Linked DNA regions of Homo sapiens: region 2 is linked to region 1. A link means that fine-mapping ties the variant in region 1 to the plasma level of a protein whose gene starts in the linked region. Region 1 holds a variant in brackets. A gene starts in the other region. All regions are shown on their reverse strands.

What was found. PIP is the posterior inclusion probability: the model's chance that the variant is causal. Protein levels are from antibody-based Olink assays in UK Biobank. Linkage for the fine-mapping came from a reference panel and not from the study's own genotypes, which makes the PIPs less certain.
Region 2: IGFBP3 starts here. The variant in region 1 is fine-mapped to the plasma level of the IGFBP3 protein (UK Biobank, PIP 0.98).

What each region holds. Positions count from the first base shown.
Region 1 is chr16:1,810,052-1,819,044 of GRCh38, reverse strand. HAGH (hydroxyacylglutathione hydrolase) reads left to right here. Exons shown (of 9, transcript NM_005326.6): 6 at 1,774-1,877; 7 at 2,051-2,152. Among named protein-coding and RNA genes, the nearest start is that of HAGH, 12 kb to the left of the region's middle. The variant C/T (reference allele first, on the strand shown) is at 5,930.
Region 2 is chr7:45,916,825-45,925,686 of GRCh38, reverse strand. IGFBP3 (insulin like growth factor binding protein 3) reads left to right here and starts at 4,415. Exons shown (of 5, transcript NM_000598.5): 1 at 4,415-4,949; 2 at 8,248-8,474. The coding sequence starts at 4,547. RefSeq lists enhancers at 3,451-4,031, 4,032-4,612.

The DNA of each region.
Region 1 (8,993 bases):
ACGGGGCAGCTTCGTGGCCTTCTCTGTTGCACCGGTGTGAGGGGGCCCAGGGGTGGGTGCTGGGGAGCCTCATGGTGGGGCTGGCCGATTCCTCCCATGATGGGTTTGGATCGTGGTCTGGAAGGAAGTTACGCTTGCAGCAAGGGCTGTGCTGGCGGAGACTGCTGGACAGCTGGGGTCCGGGCGGGTCCCACGGGAAAGGAGTCAGTTTCTTCCAGCAGGGCGAGGGGTGGCTCAGCCCTGGGGCTGTGTTCCTTGATGCCGTAGTGTGGACTCAGGGACCTGTGCTAGTCTGGGGGCCCTGCCTGCCTCCCAGGGTGGTTGCAGACCTGTGGAGCCACCTGTGGAGGTCATATGGCCGGGGGACGGCCTCACTGTAGGCCGGGCCCTTCATGGCTGCGGCCTTCTAAGGCGGTGCGGAGGCTGCTGGTGGTGGGGGCTGCCTCCCGTGCTTGTTACTGTGGCCTTGTCCCGACTGGCCTCACAGTGCGGGGTTTCACCCGGTGACTCGATGTGGGCCTTGTACGGCTGGGAGGCCTCCTGGTGGGAGGTGGCAGCCCCAGCCTTGAACCCAGGTGGGAGTGACCCAGGGCCACACTCGGACCCCTGGGTGGAGTCAAACCAGGGGTGCAGGGAGAAGGTGTGGCCAGGGAGCCCCAGAGGAGGGCGGAGGGCATGGCGGGAGGGACGGGCGCCTCGCTGTGAGGGATAAGGTGCCTTCAGGCTGCAGTGCGCAGGGCTGGGGGATGAGCCTGGGTGGTGCCGGTGTGGGAGGGATGGAGTTGGGGACCTCAGATTTAGGATTCTTCTCAGGGCAGCGAGCACGGAGTCCCTGGGTCTCACCTGTGCCTCCTGGGCTGTGTGCCTGGCGCAAGGACAGCCCTGTGGAGCAGAAGCCCCAGGCCCCAAGTTCGCCTCTGTCTGCCCTTCCCTATCTCTGGGGACTCCATGGCCTCCTGCTGGTCCTCAGACTCGAGGTCTAGGGCCCTTCAGGGGAACAGGCTCCCCACCGTCCATTCCCATCTCTCGTGCCCAGAAGGACTCCTGGCCTTGGCCTGTGCCCAGCACCGCTGCATGCTTCTCTGCCCCAGGTGGTGAGAAGTGGGGCGGCCTCCACTGTGCTGGGTGCTGGGCACCCTCCTCTCAGGGGACTGCCCTGTTTCTGGGGCAGACGGCCACGTGAGGTCAGCGAGGCCAGGACAGCCGCGAAGCAGCAAGAGGAGGGCAAGCGGGGACAGAGGCCTGGGCAGTGATGGGGTGGGGATGCCGTCCTGAGGCCGAGGCCGGAAGGAGCCTGGGTGCGCCTGAGGTGCCCAGCGGTGTGGGCCGCATCTTCCGCCATGGGTGAGAGGTGGTCCCGCTCAGCTCAGCCAGGGTGGTGAGACCTTGGTCACAGGGTGGCGCTGGCTGCTGGGGCCAAGGGAAGATGGGAGCCAGGCATGGGCCTGAGAGGGGCTGCTGCGTGTTTGGGGAGAGGGCTGGATTTGTGAGGGTCTCAGAGCCACAGTTGGTGGGATTGGGGGCAGTGAGGGAGGAGTGACTTGGGTTTCGGGTCTGCTCGGCCAGTTGGGTGGTTGGACTGTCAGCTGAGACTTGGAAGGAGATGTGGGAGCCGGAATGCAGGGGGGCTGAGTCTGGGCAGCCGTGGCCGGAGGGCAGCCAGGGTTCGGGGCCTGGGCCTTGCCGGTGAGTGTCACCCTGCTCCTGGCCCCCTCCTGAGTCCTAGCCACCAGCCTCAAGTGGCCCCCACCTCGTGGCTGTCCTTGTTTCCAGGTGACACCTTGTTTGTGGCTGGCTGCGGGAAGTTCTATGAAGGGACTGCGGATGAGATGTGTAAAGCTCTGCTGGAGGTCTTGGGCCGGCTCCCCCCGGACACAGTAGGCAGCGCCTCCCTGCGGGCCGGGGTGTGGGGGGCCTTAACCAGGGCGGGGCTGCTCTCCCTCCTGGCACCCTCTCACCGGACACCCCCCGGGGGCATCCAGGTCCCGTCCCTGAGGACTTTCACAGGTGGTAACAGCCTTCCGAGCTCACCTGTCACCTCTCTCCTCAGAGAGTCTACTGTGGCCACGAGTACACCATCAACAACCTCAAGTTTGCACGCCACGTGGAGCCCGGCAATGCCGCCATCCGGGAGAAGCTGGCCTGGGCCAAGGTGAGTGGGGCCGTCACTGCGCAGTGCCTTCCTGTGGGCTGCTCAGGGCCGCTGTGCACAGCGGGGTCGCCAGAGTGGGTAGACACTCACACTCTGAGCCCAGAGAGCAGGCCTGGGATTCAGGCCAGTGTGGCCCAGCTCGCCCTGCACGGCAAACCCAGGGGTTCTATGGAGATCCCTCTGCCTCGGAGGGTCTGGAGTAGGCCTCAGACGCTGCGTGTGTAAAAAGCGCCCAGCCTGTTCCCACATTCTGAGCAGTAGGGTCAGGCTGGCAGCACGTGGCTCTGCTGGCTCTCCAGGCCACAGAACGTGGCTCTGTGTCCAAAGGACTCTTATCTCCACGGTGGCCCCACGTGAGCCTCCATGGCGTAGCCCAGGCCAGCTGGGCCAAAGTCTGCCAGGAGCAGGACGGGGTTCTCCAGGGGTGTGTTTCCCCGAATTCACTGGAAACGGTGTCACAAGCACGCACGCCTGGGTGGTCTCAGGCGTGGGCTCCCTCTGCTGAGTGGAGTGAGAGTCGCTGCCTCTGACAGGGTTGTTTTAAATAAATCACCCGGTTTTTTGAGCATCTTTTTCAATTTCTTAGAGTAGAGGTTAACATTATTTTACAGTATTTACTCATGCAAATTCCAACTCTAAATCAGATGAATCATAAATACTCATCTTTTTTTTTTTTTTAATTTTTTTTTGAGACGGAGTCTCCCTCTGTCGCCCAGGCTGGAGTACAGTGGCGTAATCTCGGCTCACTGCAACCAGCACCTCCCGGGTTCAAGAAATTCTCCCTGCTGGCCGGGCGTGGTGGCTCACGCTTGTAATCCCAACTACTCAGGAGGCTGAGGCAGGAGAATCGCTTGAACCCAGGAGGCAGAGGTTGCAGTGAGCCAAGATCGCTCCACTGCGCTCCAGCCTGGTGACAGAGCGAGACTCCGTCTCAAAAAAAAAAAAAAAAAAAAAAAAAAATTCTCCCTGCCTCAGCCTCTTGAGTAGCTGGGATTACAGGCGCCAGCCAACACGCCCAGCTAATTTTTCTACTTTTAGTAGAGATAGGGTTTTGCCATGTTGGCCAGGCTCGTCTTGAACTCCTGACTTCAGGTAATCCGCCTGCCTTGGCCTCCCAAAGTGCTGAGATTACAGGCGTGAGCCACGTCACCTGGCCCGTGTGTCTGTCTTGAGTGGACAGATTGCAGTTTGAGGAATGTTGATGATGTTTGCACTTGTGTAATCCCCTCCACAGTCCAGATGTGGAACTTACCACTACCCCAAAGGCTCCTGTGTCCCTCCCATGTGGCGTCCCCGCCAGCTGTTGCTCTGCTGTGACCTCAGGTCACTTTCTAGTTTCCCATGAACAGAATCTCATTGCTCCGTCATCTCTGTGGCATTCTCGGCCCCGCTGATGTTGGTGAGGGTCAGCCACGCTCTTTGCTTCTGAGTAGCCCATTGTGTGGAAATGCTACAATTTGTTTATGCATTTGTCTGTTTCCAGTTTTTTGCTATTTGAATAAAGCTGCTATGGACATTTGTGTACAAGTCTTTTGTGAACATGTTTTTATTGCTCTTGGATACTACCTAAGAGTGGAATTGCTGTGTTGTGTGGTTAAAGGTGTGAACCGTTTTCCAAAAATGGTTGTACTGTTCTACAGTCCCCCACCAATGCTTGAGTTCCGGGGCCTCCATGCTGTGCCAGCACTGCTTGGTGTTGTCGGTCTCTCCAATTTTTGCCATTCTAACTTGCCTGTGGTGGCGTCTCACTGCCTTTAAAATGTGGATTTCCCCATGTGACCATCTTTTCATGTGTGTCGGCCTTTGGATGCCTTCTCATGAAGTTTATGTTCAATCTTTTGTCCATTTTAAATATTGGGTTTGGCCTGTTGGGCTGCTCTTGTAAGAGTTCCTTATATCATCTGGAAACAAGTCTTTGTGAGATATATATATATATGTGTGTGTGTGTGTGTGTGTGTGTGTATATACATATATATATTTATTTGTTTGTTTTTTGAGACAAAGTCTTGCTCTGTCGCCCAGGCTGGAGTGCAGTGGTGTGATCTCATCTCACTGCAAGCTCTGCCTCCCGGGTTCAAGCCATTCTCCTGCCTCAGCCTCCCAAGTAGCTGGGACTACAGGTGCCCGTCACCACGCCCAGCTAATTTTTTGTATTTTTAGTAGAGATGGGTTTCACCGTGTTATCCAGGAAGGTCTCGATCTCCTGACCTCGTGATCCACCCGCCTCGGCCTCCCAAAGTGCTGGGATTACAGGCGTGACCCACCACGCCCAGCTGAGATATATATTTAAAAGATGTTTTTCTCTCCCAGCTCATGGCTTGCCTTTTCATTTTCTTAACATTGTCTTTTGGAAAATAGTTTATAGTTTTGGTGAAGTTCCATTTACTTATTTTTTGTTTGTTTCTTTTTTTTTTTTTTGAGACGGAGTTTCACTCTTGTTGCCCAGGCTGGAGTGCAGCGGCGCGATCTCAGCTCACCGCAACATCCACCTCCTGGGTTTAAGCGATTCTCCTGCCTCAGCCTCCCGAGTAGCTGGGATTACAGGCATGCACCACCACACCCGGTTAATTTTGTATTTTTAGTAGAGATGGGGTTTCTCCATGTTGATCAGGCTGGACTCGAACTCCTGACCTCAGGTGATCTGCCCACCTTGGGCTCCAAAAGTGCTGGGATTACAGATGTGAGCCACTGCGCCCGGCCTACTCAATTTTTCTTTTATGTTTCTTGTGCCCTTTCTAAGATATCTTTGCATACCCTTAGCTCACAAAGACTTTCTCCTGTGTTTCTTCCTAGAAGTTTTAAAGTCTTAGCTTTTATATTTACAAACAATTTACAGTGTTCCCTTTCAAGATGGTGTTTGTGTGTGGTGCGAGGTGAGGGTAGAGGTTCACCCTCTCGCAGTGTGATCCCGAGGTGTTCAGGGCTGTCTGTCGAAGGACTGTCCTTTCCTCCCTGGATTGCCTTGGCACCTTTCTGAAAAGAATGGGCCCTCTATGCCCGAGTCTGCTTCTGGTCTCTGCTCTGTTTCGTTGGTCTCTATGACTTGCCACGGTGTCCGAGGACAGCACCTTGATGACTGTAACTCTGTGCTGAGTCTTGGCACTGGTATGTGTGAATCCTCCAGTGTTCTTTTTCAAAATGGTTTTAGTTGTTTTAAGCCTTTTACATTTCCGTTTTCAGAATCATCTCGTGAACTTCTATCAGAAAAGCTAGCCTGGCTGCTGATTGGGACTGTTGTGATAACTGATGTGGCGAGAATTGCGATCTTAACATTGAGTGTTTCTGTGAGCTTTCCATCTATGAATGTCTTTAGCTTTTCTCAGCAGTGTTTTGAAATTTGCGTGTTCAAGGTCTTGCACGTGTTACTAAATGGATCCCTAAGCACTTCTGGTCATGATTATTTGTTGATACTAGTTATAAATACAGTGGATGCGTATTAACTTCCTGGGTGTCTTAGTCTGTGTGGTGTTGCTATAAAGGAATACTTGAGGCCGGGTGACTTATAAAAGGAGGTTTATGTGGCTCATGGTTATGCAGGCTATATAAGCAGCATGGCCTGGGCGTCTGCACCTGGTGAGGCCTCAGGCTGCTTCTGCTCATGGCAGAAGGCGAAAGGAGCTGGTGGGTGTGAAGCATGTGGCCAGAGGAAGGAGAGAGTGGGGGAGGCAAAAGTTTCTTTTAAACAACCAGATCCTGTGGGAACTAACAGCAAAAACTCGCACTTGGAGCAGGGCACCAAGCCGTTCACAAAGGATTCCCCCCATGATCCAAACACCT[C/T]CATTAATTGGGGATCAGATTTGAGCATGCGTTTGGAGGGATGGACATCCCAGCCGCAGCCCCGTGTGAACACCCAGGAGAAGGGAGTGGCCGGGCTGGACGGGAGGTGTGTTTGACTTTTAAAGAAACTGCCAAACTCCCCTTCCCCGGTGCTTGTGGTGTTTGCTTTCCTGCTGGGAAGGCGTGGGCACACCAGCTGGTCCGTGTCTTTCGGCACACCACACGGTGGAGCCAGCCCACGCGGTGGAGCCAGCCGTTTGAAAGGAGGTGCTGGAGCCCAGTCCCTGGTGAGAGGCCGCCTCCTGCAGGGCGCCTCCCATTCTGCGGCCTCTGGTTTTCTTAGCAGTATCTTTTGAGCCAACATTTTTAATTTTAATGAAGTCCAATAGATTCTTTTATGCTTCATTCTTTTTTGTCTCCCATCTAAGAAATCTTTGTTTATCCCAAGGTCAAAAAATTTTCTCCTGTATTTTATTTTTGGAATTTGTATAGTTTTAAAACTTAGTATGAACTCCCACCCCCCAAATGTCTGCTGGATCTGTAATGATATTCCTGCTTTCATTCCTGATTTTGACAATTTGTGTGTTTTTTTTTTGTTTTTTTTTTTTTTTGAGACAGCGTTTCGCTCTTGCCGCCCAGGCTGGAGTGCAATGGCGCGATCTCGGCTCACCGCAACCCCTGCCTCCCGGGTTCAAGCGATTCTCATGCCTCAGCCTCCCAAGTAGCTGGGACTACAGGCATGTGCCACCATGCCTGGGTAATTTTTATATTTTTAGTAGAGATGGGGTTTTACCATGTTGGCCAGGCTGATCTCAAACTCCTGACTTCGTGATCTGCCCGCCTCAGCCTCCCAAAGTGCTGGGATTACAGGCGTGAGCCACTGTGCCTGGCCTGTCATTCTTTTTTTTTTTTTTTTTGGTTGGGGAGAGACAGCGTCTTGCTCTGCTGCCCAGGCTGGAGTGCAGTGGCACAATCTCGGCTCACTGCAACCTCCGCCTCCTGGGTTCAGGCGATTCTGCTGCCTCAGTCTCCCGTACCTGGGACTACAGGCCTGTGCCATCATGCTTGGTTAATTTTTGTATTTTTGGTAGAGAGGGGGTTTACACGATGTTGCCTAGGCTGGTCTTGAACTTCTGGGCTCAAGTGATCCTCCTGCCTTGGCCTCCCAAAGTGCTGGGATTACAGGCATGTGCCAACCACACCCGGCCTCATTCTTTTTGATAGGTGTAAAATATACTATTGCGTGGGTGTCACCCATAAATCATTTTACCAATCCCCATAGGAGGGACGTTGAGAGTTTTCAACTCCTTTTGCACCCTGGAGTCCAGAACCCACACGAGGTGGAGCTCTTCTGAGCTGTGCTGCAAGGACTGACCTTATTTTTTTATTTTTATTTTTTTGAGGCAGAGTCTCACTCTGTCACCCAAGCTGGAGTGCAGTGGTGCGATCTCGGCTCACTACTGCAGCCTCCGCCTCCCGGGTTCAAGCGATTCTCCTGCCTCAGCCTCCCAAGTAGCTGGAATTACAGACATGTGCCACCACGTCTGGCTAATTTTTGTATTTTTAGTAGAGACGGGGTTTCACCATGTTGGCCAGGCCGGTCTCAAACTCCTGACCTCAGGTGATCCACCTGCCTCAGCCTCCCCCAGTGCTGGGATTACAGGTGTGAGCAACCGCGCCCGGCCTGTTGTTCTTTCTTTGGGAGACAGTGTCTTGCTCTGCTGCCCAGGCTGGAGTGCAGTGGCATGGTCTTGGCTCGCTGCAGCCTCCACCTCCTGGGTTCAAGTGATTCTCCTGCCTCAGCTTCTCCAGTAGCTGGGATTACAGGCACCCGCCACCACACCCGGCTGATTTTTTCTATTTTAGTAGAGATGGGGTTTCACCGTGTTGCCCAGGCTGGTCTCGAACTCCTGAGTTCAGGCAATCCACCCACCTCGGCCTCCCAAAGTGTTAGGATTACAGGCGTGAGCCACTGCGCTCGGCTGACTGACCTTATTTTTGTCTTTAAATGCTTCGTACTTTGTAGGAAAAATAGCTAGAACATTAAAACTCGTTTTAATAGGTAACCTAAAAGCTTATGACAATTTGTACTTCCTCTGTTTTAAAGGTCTCCTTAGAAGTGTTAACTTTGCTTCCCTCGTAGGAGGCAGAGGGAGATTTCTTAGGATTGAGAATGTTGGTGGGAACACAGGGAATATTTTAAAACATTCTCAGATTCTTTTCGCCAGAAGGGAAGAACAGATTAGTGAGAAACCATCTTGGCATCTACCAGACCCCCGCTTGGTGCAGCTCTACCAGCTGAAGAGTCACTCACCGACACCACTGCCCATAGCGGGTGGGGAACCTCGGGGGTGAGGCGCGGTGGTCTTGAGCCTGTGCGTGGGCACCAGCAGCTTCTGTCAGAGCTCTGCCCTGAGGCCCTCCTGGTGCGGCTGCGGTAGAAGGGCCGGGGCTGTGTGGAGACCCCGCTGTTGCCGCCCTGTGTTTTCCTGCTAACTGTTGGCCCCGTGGCTGGGTTTGCATTCTCCTCCCCCCGCCCCCACCCCATCTGCCCTGGTCAGTGCTGGTCGGAAGGGAGACCATCTCCATCTCGAGAGGAGGTGACCAGCTGCCTGCCTGCAGGGGCTTGGGTGGCCTCCCCTGCTGCTGGTCCCTGTGCCCCTCCTCCCCGTGCTTGCTGTGAGGCTGCAGCTGTGGCGGTTTCTTTTCTGTGTCTCCTGCATTGCTGTTACCTCCATAATGTGAAATGTAAACCATGTGAATGAAAAGGAAGCTCCGTCCCTGTCGTCCTCTCCAGGCCGGTGCGGGAAGGCGGATGTGTGGCTCATCCCGGACGCTGGCTTCTCTTCCCTCTTCCACACGCGCACACCCGCCGGGCTCTGCTCACCTTGCCTTCTCAGCCTTGTCAGTCGGGCAGTGTCCTAAGGTTACCAGGAGGTGTTCTGAAGCATTTTTTGAGACGTGATGTCGCTGTCACCCAGGCTGGAGGGCAGTAGCACAGTCTTGGCTCACTGTAGCCTCGACCTGTGCTCAAGCGATCCTCCCACCTCAGCCCCCTGAGTAG
Region 2 (8,862 bases), not on the chromosome of region 1:
CACAGGATTGACACTGGTGCCGGGGACAAACCAGCTGAATGAAAAGTGCTCCTAAAATCTTTCCTGTCCCCTTTTAAGACTTCACTGGGCAGGGAAAGACCATACTAGACTGTTGGCCAGTTTGAAGACTGTATGTCATGCCCACAGGTAGACTCAATTGTTAGCATGTTGACATTTGAACTAAGGAGACAAGGTATGTGGGCTGTGTGCTAGGACTCATTTGAGAATAAAACCTTTAAGATTGTTCAGGTGGCTATGTGAACACAAGGATGAACTTTTATTTCCCATTCCCCAGGCAACACTGTGTCTAAGAGTTCATCCTTCCATCAGTGCTGTAAGATAGGTACTAGTGCCCTTACCTGGTCCTAGAATTGAGTTGCAGAACTTGCCCAATGTCAGAAAGCTATTGAGAGGAGAACTGAGCAAGCAGTTAAGAATAAACTCTAGTCTACTGTGATTGAAGTCCCCAGTCTCTCTCATTGTTCTGAAGCTTCAACCTTGAAGAAAAGTTGGAAGTTAGACAGAGTCAGGAATTGCCTCTGTTTGAATGACCAGGAGACACAGAGGTAACTCTTATCATGTAAATGACTAACTGTGTAGGCAAGGGTGTGGGTGCCCACATGTAGAAGGTAGCACTATTGTGAGAGAAAGCCATGACAGGAGTATCATTGTCCTGAGCAGAAACCTCCCTTCCATGGGGTGGGCTCCCAATGTCCAGGCCCCTTCTCTGGAGCATCTATCTCCAGATTGTCTGACGACACGGGACAGCACTAACTCTGAGGAGCCCCTGTCTCTGGACCATGGATTTCCACTGCCACAGGTACCACTGTCCCCATCCAGTATATCCAGTTACCTTCTCTTCTCTTCCAAATCTCAGAATTATGCCTTCCACAGGTCACATGCACAATGCCAACACCATCCCCTCTGAGCCCTCCCCTCGTCCCTCCAGGCACACAGAATGACTCTCTGTGGATGCCCATACTTTCTTCTTGCCTGCCTCTCTCAGCTGGACTCTCCCACATTGTTTAAGACTCAATTCAAATGCCACCACCTCTCAGAAGTTTTTTCTGACCACACGGACAGGTTTGCCATCCCTCCAGCAGGGTTATAAATGCACCCGGTGAACCTCTCTGTTTTCTCTGCTGTCACACTGCCTACCACTGTCTGGACTCTGGTGAGTCACTCCAGCCAGCCTGTGAAATCCTGCAGCTGGCACATGGAGGTGCTTAGTAATCATTCTTGGACTAAGTGGATAGATGAACTCTTAATGATGTTATTTGTGAGTAAAAGTCATTTGCAGTGTTGTTAGCCACCGTGATGTTGGCAGTTGATGGTCCCCAATGCATCCCCAAGCCCAGTATATGTAATTCCGGGAGGCTCACCCAGCAGGCGATCTGATGGAGAGAAAATTAGATTTCCTGTCTCCACCAATACGTCCCCTAAAGGGGAAAAAAAACCTGAAGCTTATAGGGTGAGAGCCACTGAGTCCTAGCAACTGGGTCCCCAACACTGCTTGCCTTTAGAAGTTTGGCTCTTTCTGTTCTAAGTCTATTGGTGGTCAGTAAGACTGATAGCCACACCCCAGAGGACACTGAGAAACAGTAGTGCTGTCAGAAGGAGAGAGACCCTAGGGTGGCTTGTCCAGCTGGGGGCTGAGCAGAAGAAAAGCAAAGGAGCCAGTATCACGCAGCGACAAGGTGCCCTTTAGCAGCAGGAGTGGGCTCAAAGAAATGAGTGGTTTAGGTCACCTGGTGAAAATAACGAGGCTGACCAAAGGAAACACTAATTATAATCAGGTCAGCTGGACTCCGTTAGTGAAAAGAGATCTATGCAGCCTCCTGACCTCTATTCGGATGGTTATTCGCTACTTTTGCAATGATTAGCAATTGTATGCCAAGCACCTTCACAGGGGGTAAACATCTTTCTCACTAAATACTAGTTTATGTTAAAAACTACAAACACCAGATGAATTGGAAGTTTAACAGAATTAACGAGCATGTCACAAAATTAAGTTTTATCCAGTCCAAATCCTTCCTGCAACAATTATGTTCCGGGAGGGGCAGGGAGCTTGCAGTTATCAAATAAAACTGGCTAAATAACAAAACACAATTCTCCCCGTGTCACTGCCTCAAATTTACTCTGCTGTTGCAAGATGTCATGATAAAGGTGATGGCAATCTATATAAAACATTGTTATTGGAATAGCCTTTGAAAGTTGAAATGTGACTTAGTCTTTACGTGTGTCCCGTGGTCCCTGAGGCCGGGCTGGACGCCTGGAGCTTTGGCGCCCCCTAGCCATTCGGCACTGAACAAGTTTCTCCAACTGCAATGCGAGGGAAAAAAGAAGAGAACCAAGAATAAAACAAATTTTTTAATCCTTTCCAAAAAGACATTGTTTCTGATCTTCCCCTGTCCACTCTCCAGATGATAAAGCTGAATAAAAAGTGCTACACTAACCAGTGGTCAGTCCAGGCTCTGCTGCAACATTGCACTAACCAGAACTGCAGACCTGGGACCTCAAGAATTGCATTTGATGCCGAACCCAGCTCTAATTTCAGAGTCAAGGTCTCTGCGAGTATTTAAGGAACGGATGTAAACCTGGGGGATTCGTTTTGTTTCCTTCAATTTTCCAATGAAATCAGAGATCCTGTTCTTGGGTGTCAACGCAGATACTAGAAGGAGGTGATACAAGAGAAAGGAAACAGCAAGCGACGATTATGGCACGGTTTCCTGTAAACAAGGTTGAGTGTAGCCACAGCCTGAGCACTGTGGGAGAAGAGCTCATAAGAAAATGACGGTGCTGGGCCTTCGTCACCCCGGGGCACTCCATTGTTCTTGTCTTTGGTCTCTTTTTATTTGTAGAGGTCCAATTATTTATTTATTTAGTACAAGAGGGAACGAAATTGATCTTTCCATTCTAAAAGGAGAGTATATATGTATAAAAGGAAGCTGTATAGATATGGGGGAAGAGGTGGACAGGGGGAAAAGGGGAGAGGACGAGAGAGAGAAAGGGAGGGAGAGGGACAAGGAGAGACACTGGGCGAGAGATCGATTAGGAGAGACAGAAATGATGAATGAAGATTAACTTCACCCAAGGCTTCGTGCTGGAGGGGAATGGAGGAGCTCCTGATTTGCTATTACTACTCCAAACTGCAAAGGGCTCCTTCAAGTCACCTATCCACCTCCTAAGGCAAGCGTCCAATTTCAACAGCGTTCAGGAAAGTCTCCTCCCGCGGAGGTCTCACCGCTTCCCACTCCACCCCCACAAACTCTTTGGAAAAGTGCCTTGAAAAATTTAATCCTCAATCCAATCCTGGACCACCAGCGTCCTCTGTTGGTCACCGAAGGGAGGGGGTGCGCAGACAAAACTGAAGAAACTCGAGTGCCAGAGAAGGCCGACAGGAGTTACAGCGACCTCAGCGCGCAATTGCGCCCCCGAACTTTACTGAAAAGTGTTTAGATTGCAGAGATAAGCTAGAATCCCAACGCATCGAGAATACAGTAATACGAAGTCGCCTTCAAAAAATGACAATGAAAATTGCCTATTAAAGGACTATTTGGTTAATTACGTTTCAGCAGTGCCCAGTTTATTGTCTTTATTATTCTTTTGTCATGGGTGTAAACTCCATTTGAAAACATAATCAGGGAGAATACCCAAGACAAGAAGAACAGTTGTCATTTAAAATATTTGAAAAGCCCTGCCTTAAGGACGCATTCGCTTGCCGGTCCACTCTTAATTGGAGACTTGCGGTGTAGCAACACGTGAGAGTCTTCTTGCGTTGAGAAGTAAGCCTGGAAAGGGGCGAAGGCCCCGGGCGCATCTTCAGATGCGTATTTGTGGGCCCCTGGGGATATAAACAGCCCAGCGGGTGTAAATTAAACCCCGCAGTGCCTTGGCTCCCTGAGACCCAAATGTAAGTCAGAAATGTCCCAAGACTTCGCCTGCCAACGGAATTAAATTTTAGAAAGCTCCACGAGGTACACACGAATGCGGAGCGCTGTATGCCAGTTTCCCCGACACCGGCTCGCCGCAGGGAGACCTCACCCCGAGAGCGGAAGGGGTAAGGGCGGCGGGGTCAAGGAGATCGGGGGTGCTGAGTTGGCCAGGAGTGACTGGGGTGACCGGGGGTGCTGAGGTGGCCTGGAGTGCCGGGGTGGCCGGGCACACCTTGGTTCTTGTAGACGACAAGGTGACCCGGGCTCCGGGCGTGCGCACGAGGAGCAGGTGCCCGGGCGAGTCTCGAGCTGCACGCCCCCGAGCTCGGCCCCGGCTGCTCAGGGCGAAGCACGGGCCCCCGCAGCCGTGCCTGCGCCGACCCGCCCCCCTCCCAACCCCCACTCCTGGGCGCGCCGTTCCGGGGCGTGTCCTGGGCCACCCCGGCTTCTATATAGCGGCCGGCGCGCCCGGGCCGCCCAGATGCGAGCACTGCGGCTGGGCGCTGAGGATCAGCCGCTTCCTGCCTGGATTCCACAGCTTCGCGCCGTGTACTGTCGCCCCATCCCTGCGCGCCCAGCCTGCCAAGCAGCGTGCCCCGGTTGCAGGCGTCATGCAGCGGGCGCGACCCACGCTCTGGGCCGCTGCGCTGACTCTGCTGGTGCTGCTCCGCGGGCCGCCGGTGGCGCGGGCTGGCGCGAGCTCGGCGGGCTTGGGTCCCGTGGTGCGCTGCGAGCCGTGCGACGCGCGTGCACTGGCCCAGTGCGCGCCTCCGCCCGCCGTGTGCGCGGAGCTGGTGCGCGAGCCGGGCTGCGGCTGCTGCCTGACGTGCGCACTGAGCGAGGGCCAGCCGTGCGGCATCTACACCGAGCGCTGTGGCTCCGGCCTTCGCTGCCAGCCGTCGCCCGACGAGGCGCGACCGCTGCAGGCGCTGCTGGACGGCCGCGGGCTCTGCGTCAACGCTAGTGCCGTCAGCCGCCTGCGCGCCTACCTGCTGCCAGCGCCGCCAGCTCCAGGTGAGCCGCCCGCGCCAGGTGCGCTGCGTGCAGCACCCGGCGCACTGGCGCCGAAGGGCCTGGGGGTTGCTGGGTGCCGCTGCGGGAGACTCCGCTTTTCTTCTCACTGGAGATAATATGTGGGGAAACTGAAGGCGCTCCGGGAAAGGTGAAGGCGGTCGCCGGAGGGACCCTCCCCAGCCGGCCCTCTACTTGCTCGATTCTCTAAGTGCAGAGTACTTGTAAATTGCAAAGCGCTTTCAGTGAAAATGGGTTAAAGGTTTCCGGAGCTGAGGGGAGCGGTACCGATGTTTAGCTGTTGGAAAGATCCTGGACACAGGAGATTCTCCTCGCCCCGCACGGGGGTGCACACGGACTGCAATCCCAGGGATGCTTGGGGATGGGGGGGATATAGGCGGATTTGGACCAAGGAAGGTGGGCAGGCACGTTGTAGGAAATAGTACCTCTCTTTTAAAATACTGACTTTGCACAGCCTTTTGGTTTGCAAAGCAATGTCTAGTCCCGGTATGTCCAAAAACAAGTAAAGTGGATTCGGGTTTTGATATCTTCTGCGGTTGGAAAACCTGAAGCTGAAAAAGAAGTAACTTCTTAAGGTTACCCAGCGGCCACAACAGAGTGTAGGTTTGAACTCCGCGTGCCACTTTCAGTACCATACCATTCTTACAACTCGGGCCACCCCTGCACCTGCGCCGACCTCAAACAAACTTCCAGGTGCGTGGTGGGTGCGGGCAATGTGGACTAAGTCAATTTCAATGACACGGAAGGGAATTGGAATCAGTCCTAGGGCTGTCTCCCTTCTTAATCTGAAATGGGGGGGGGAATGAGATGTTGTTAAGGGGAGCCCCAGAAGAGGAAAAATGCAAACATTTGGCAGAGTTACCCTCTTGGCTTAGCCACTATCAGTATCAGGCAGACAGCGACTCTGGTAAGGGCATCACATTGTTCCCTTAAAAAAAGGAGCGGGGGTTGTTTAAATGGATTTGGCAGCTGTTCTTTCAAGCATTCTTAGCCAGCCTCACCTAGTTATATGAGAAATAAAGTTCCTGCCTTGCACAGCTGAAGGCTGGGAGAATTCTCCCCATCCTAATTCCCCCAACTCCCCAACGATCACGTTGGACAGATGTCACTGGGCAGGCCCCCATCTAGGGCTAGCAGGATGAACAGTCCCTTTATAATTTATGTAGCTGTAGAGTTCCACGCCCGGGTGAAGTTATTTTCTGGCTCGGCAAGGCTGGCTCTGTTCACCCCTGAGAAATGCTGGATTCATGGAAAGGCAAGATGCCTGAAACATACACTGGCTCTGGTCAGCTGTTAAAGCTGCTGGAGGCATTTGTCTCTCGGGGCAAAGTTATGTCATTTGCCAAGTGTCGTACATTATTGTGCATTTTGGGGTATTCAAAAAGTGATCTTAGAAATACTGATACACATCGTCATTCTTGGGCTTTAGCAATCATCATGATTACCACCTTAGTAGCACTGTAGTATAGGTTGATGTGAGTTATAAGATTATAAAAAGATCTAAGTGACTTCTAGAATCTATTTGACAAAAAAAGGTAAATTTTCGACAGTCAAAAGTCACAATTATCTGTTGCTTAAATAGAACTGTTTTGTCTTCATGCCCTAGTCTGCAGCCCAGGCATTAAGAAGAAACCAAGGAAATTTAAGAAATTACTCAAGGTTCTTAGAAAAGAAGTATAAATACGTTTATTTACATGTTCTTAGAGTATTTACATTCTTAGTATCTCTTTTATCTCAGTATTTCCTTGAAAAAGAAAGCAAGCTAAGATTAAAAGAAATTGAAACCAAATCCTCGCAGGTAGGGACCTCCTCTGTGAGGCTCTGTGCTGGACCCTGGGAATGTGTGCTTCCCAAGGTATGAAACCCCTTGGGGAACTTTACAGCAGGACCTCAGTGAGCTGTTTGGCAGGTGAGGAAACTAAGACCCAGAGAGGAGAGGGACTTTCCTAAGGCCCTGGTGAGTGACCTGCCAGTAGCCACTTCCAGGGGAGAGCAGAGCATCTGCAGCCAAATCATTGCAGCCCCAGGTAGCTTTCTAGAATAGACTGTGGACCAGATGGGCCACCTGAGCTCCCTGCTAGGGTTACACATTATAGCCCTGTTTGTTGTAGTAGAGAAATTTCATGACTCTCAATTGTGGACTTAAGCCGATGCCTCCAGACCTTGGCATGGTCCACAGGCCCTGGGAGCATGGGCTCTGAATGTAGCCTTTGATCCCCATAGCGGTCTTACAGCCCCTCCAAGTTCATTCTGAAGAAGGAATGGAGTGAGAATCCTGGCTGCAGATCCAGTCTTGAATTTAGTCATATACTTAAAATTCCAATTCAACTGTTAACATTCCAGCATCCATTTTAAGCATCAGACTTTCTTCATTTAGCACTTTTTATTATAAAAGGGAGATCTGCTGGAGGGGGATTTCTCCTACCCCACCCCCACCCAGGGAAGGAAAAGCTCTTTGGCACTTAGAAGTCTGAGCCGTGAGTGGGACTTTGGCATTGTCTGCATCCATGTGCTGCTGTGTTCACCCGGGGTGAAAAGGACTCACTTAGGCAGGCACCAGCAAGATGCACAGGGTCTGTGTAGACCTTGAGTTTTAGAGATGTAACGGGGACCTAGAAAACAAGCCACCAACATGCTTGCATGATTCTGAGCCCCTGAGGCAAAACGCTTTGCAGGTAATAATTCAGTTTTCCCATCTGAGCTGGACACCAAGCTCTTATAAGCGTGTTTACCTGGTAGCATTGAGGACGGTACTGGTCAACCTTGGAATTCCCATAAGGGCTTGTTACAACTCAGACTGCTGCCGCCACTCCAGCGTTTCCGGAGTGGAGAATGTGCATTTCTTCCAAGTCCCCGGGCTGCCGCTGCTCCCGCGGGTGGGAGGACCACACTTGGAGTTGACTGCAAAATTTCTGAGCCGGCGCTGCAGCAGCCTCCCGTGGCTCAGGTCTGCCCCCTGCCGGTGGAAGATGAAGCATACTGCCTTCACCTACTGAGGGGCACTGAAGCGTTTGTCTGCCTTCTTTAGTTGCAGCTACTTAGGAAGAGCACCTGTCAGATTGACTTTCAAACAGATAACTTCTTGAGGTAGAGCAACCACCATGTAGTGAGTAGTATGATGGAATAATACTTCATCGAGGTATTTTAAAAAAAAAAACTCACTTGGATTGCCAACTAATATTGTCATTTACATGTGACCTGGTTGCAACGTTAAGATTTTTAAAAGACTGTGATAGATATTGATGACTCTCATGTGTTTGTCTCTCTTGGGCGTTTTAAGGAAATGCTAGTGAGTCGGAGGAAGACCGCAGCGCCGGCAGTGTGGAGAGCCCGTCCGTCTCCAGCACGCACCGGGTGTCTGATCCCAAGTTCCACCCCCTCCATTCAAAGATAATCATCATCAAGAAAGGGCATGCTAAAGACAGCCAGCGCTACAAAGTTGACTACGAGTCTCAGAGCACAGATACCCAGAACTTCTCCTCCGAGTCCAAGCGGGAGACAGAATATGTGAGAGCTTTTCCTCTTGTTAAAGGAGGAGGGCAAGACCTGCCAAGCCTGGGTACTCAGAGCCTCTTGAGGGCAATTCTTACTCAACAAACCCCAGCGCCTGGCTGATGGGTGGGCAACCCCTAGCCCCTCTGTGCCCTACCTCTCTCCTCTCCTTACATAAAGAATATTGACCCTTTTGGAGAATCTTATGAGGATCAAGCTGAAATAACACTCTTAAAAGCATATGGGATGTCATAAAGACCTCTGCAGATAATGAAAAATATTCTCATAAAGATAGTTTTATTTACTTCATCCTCTATGCTTGTTGACCTGCTATTGGTTCCATACCAGCTTCTGTGCCTTACTCTGGGAAGAGCAAAAAGGAGACAGGGAGTGATGGTTAGCT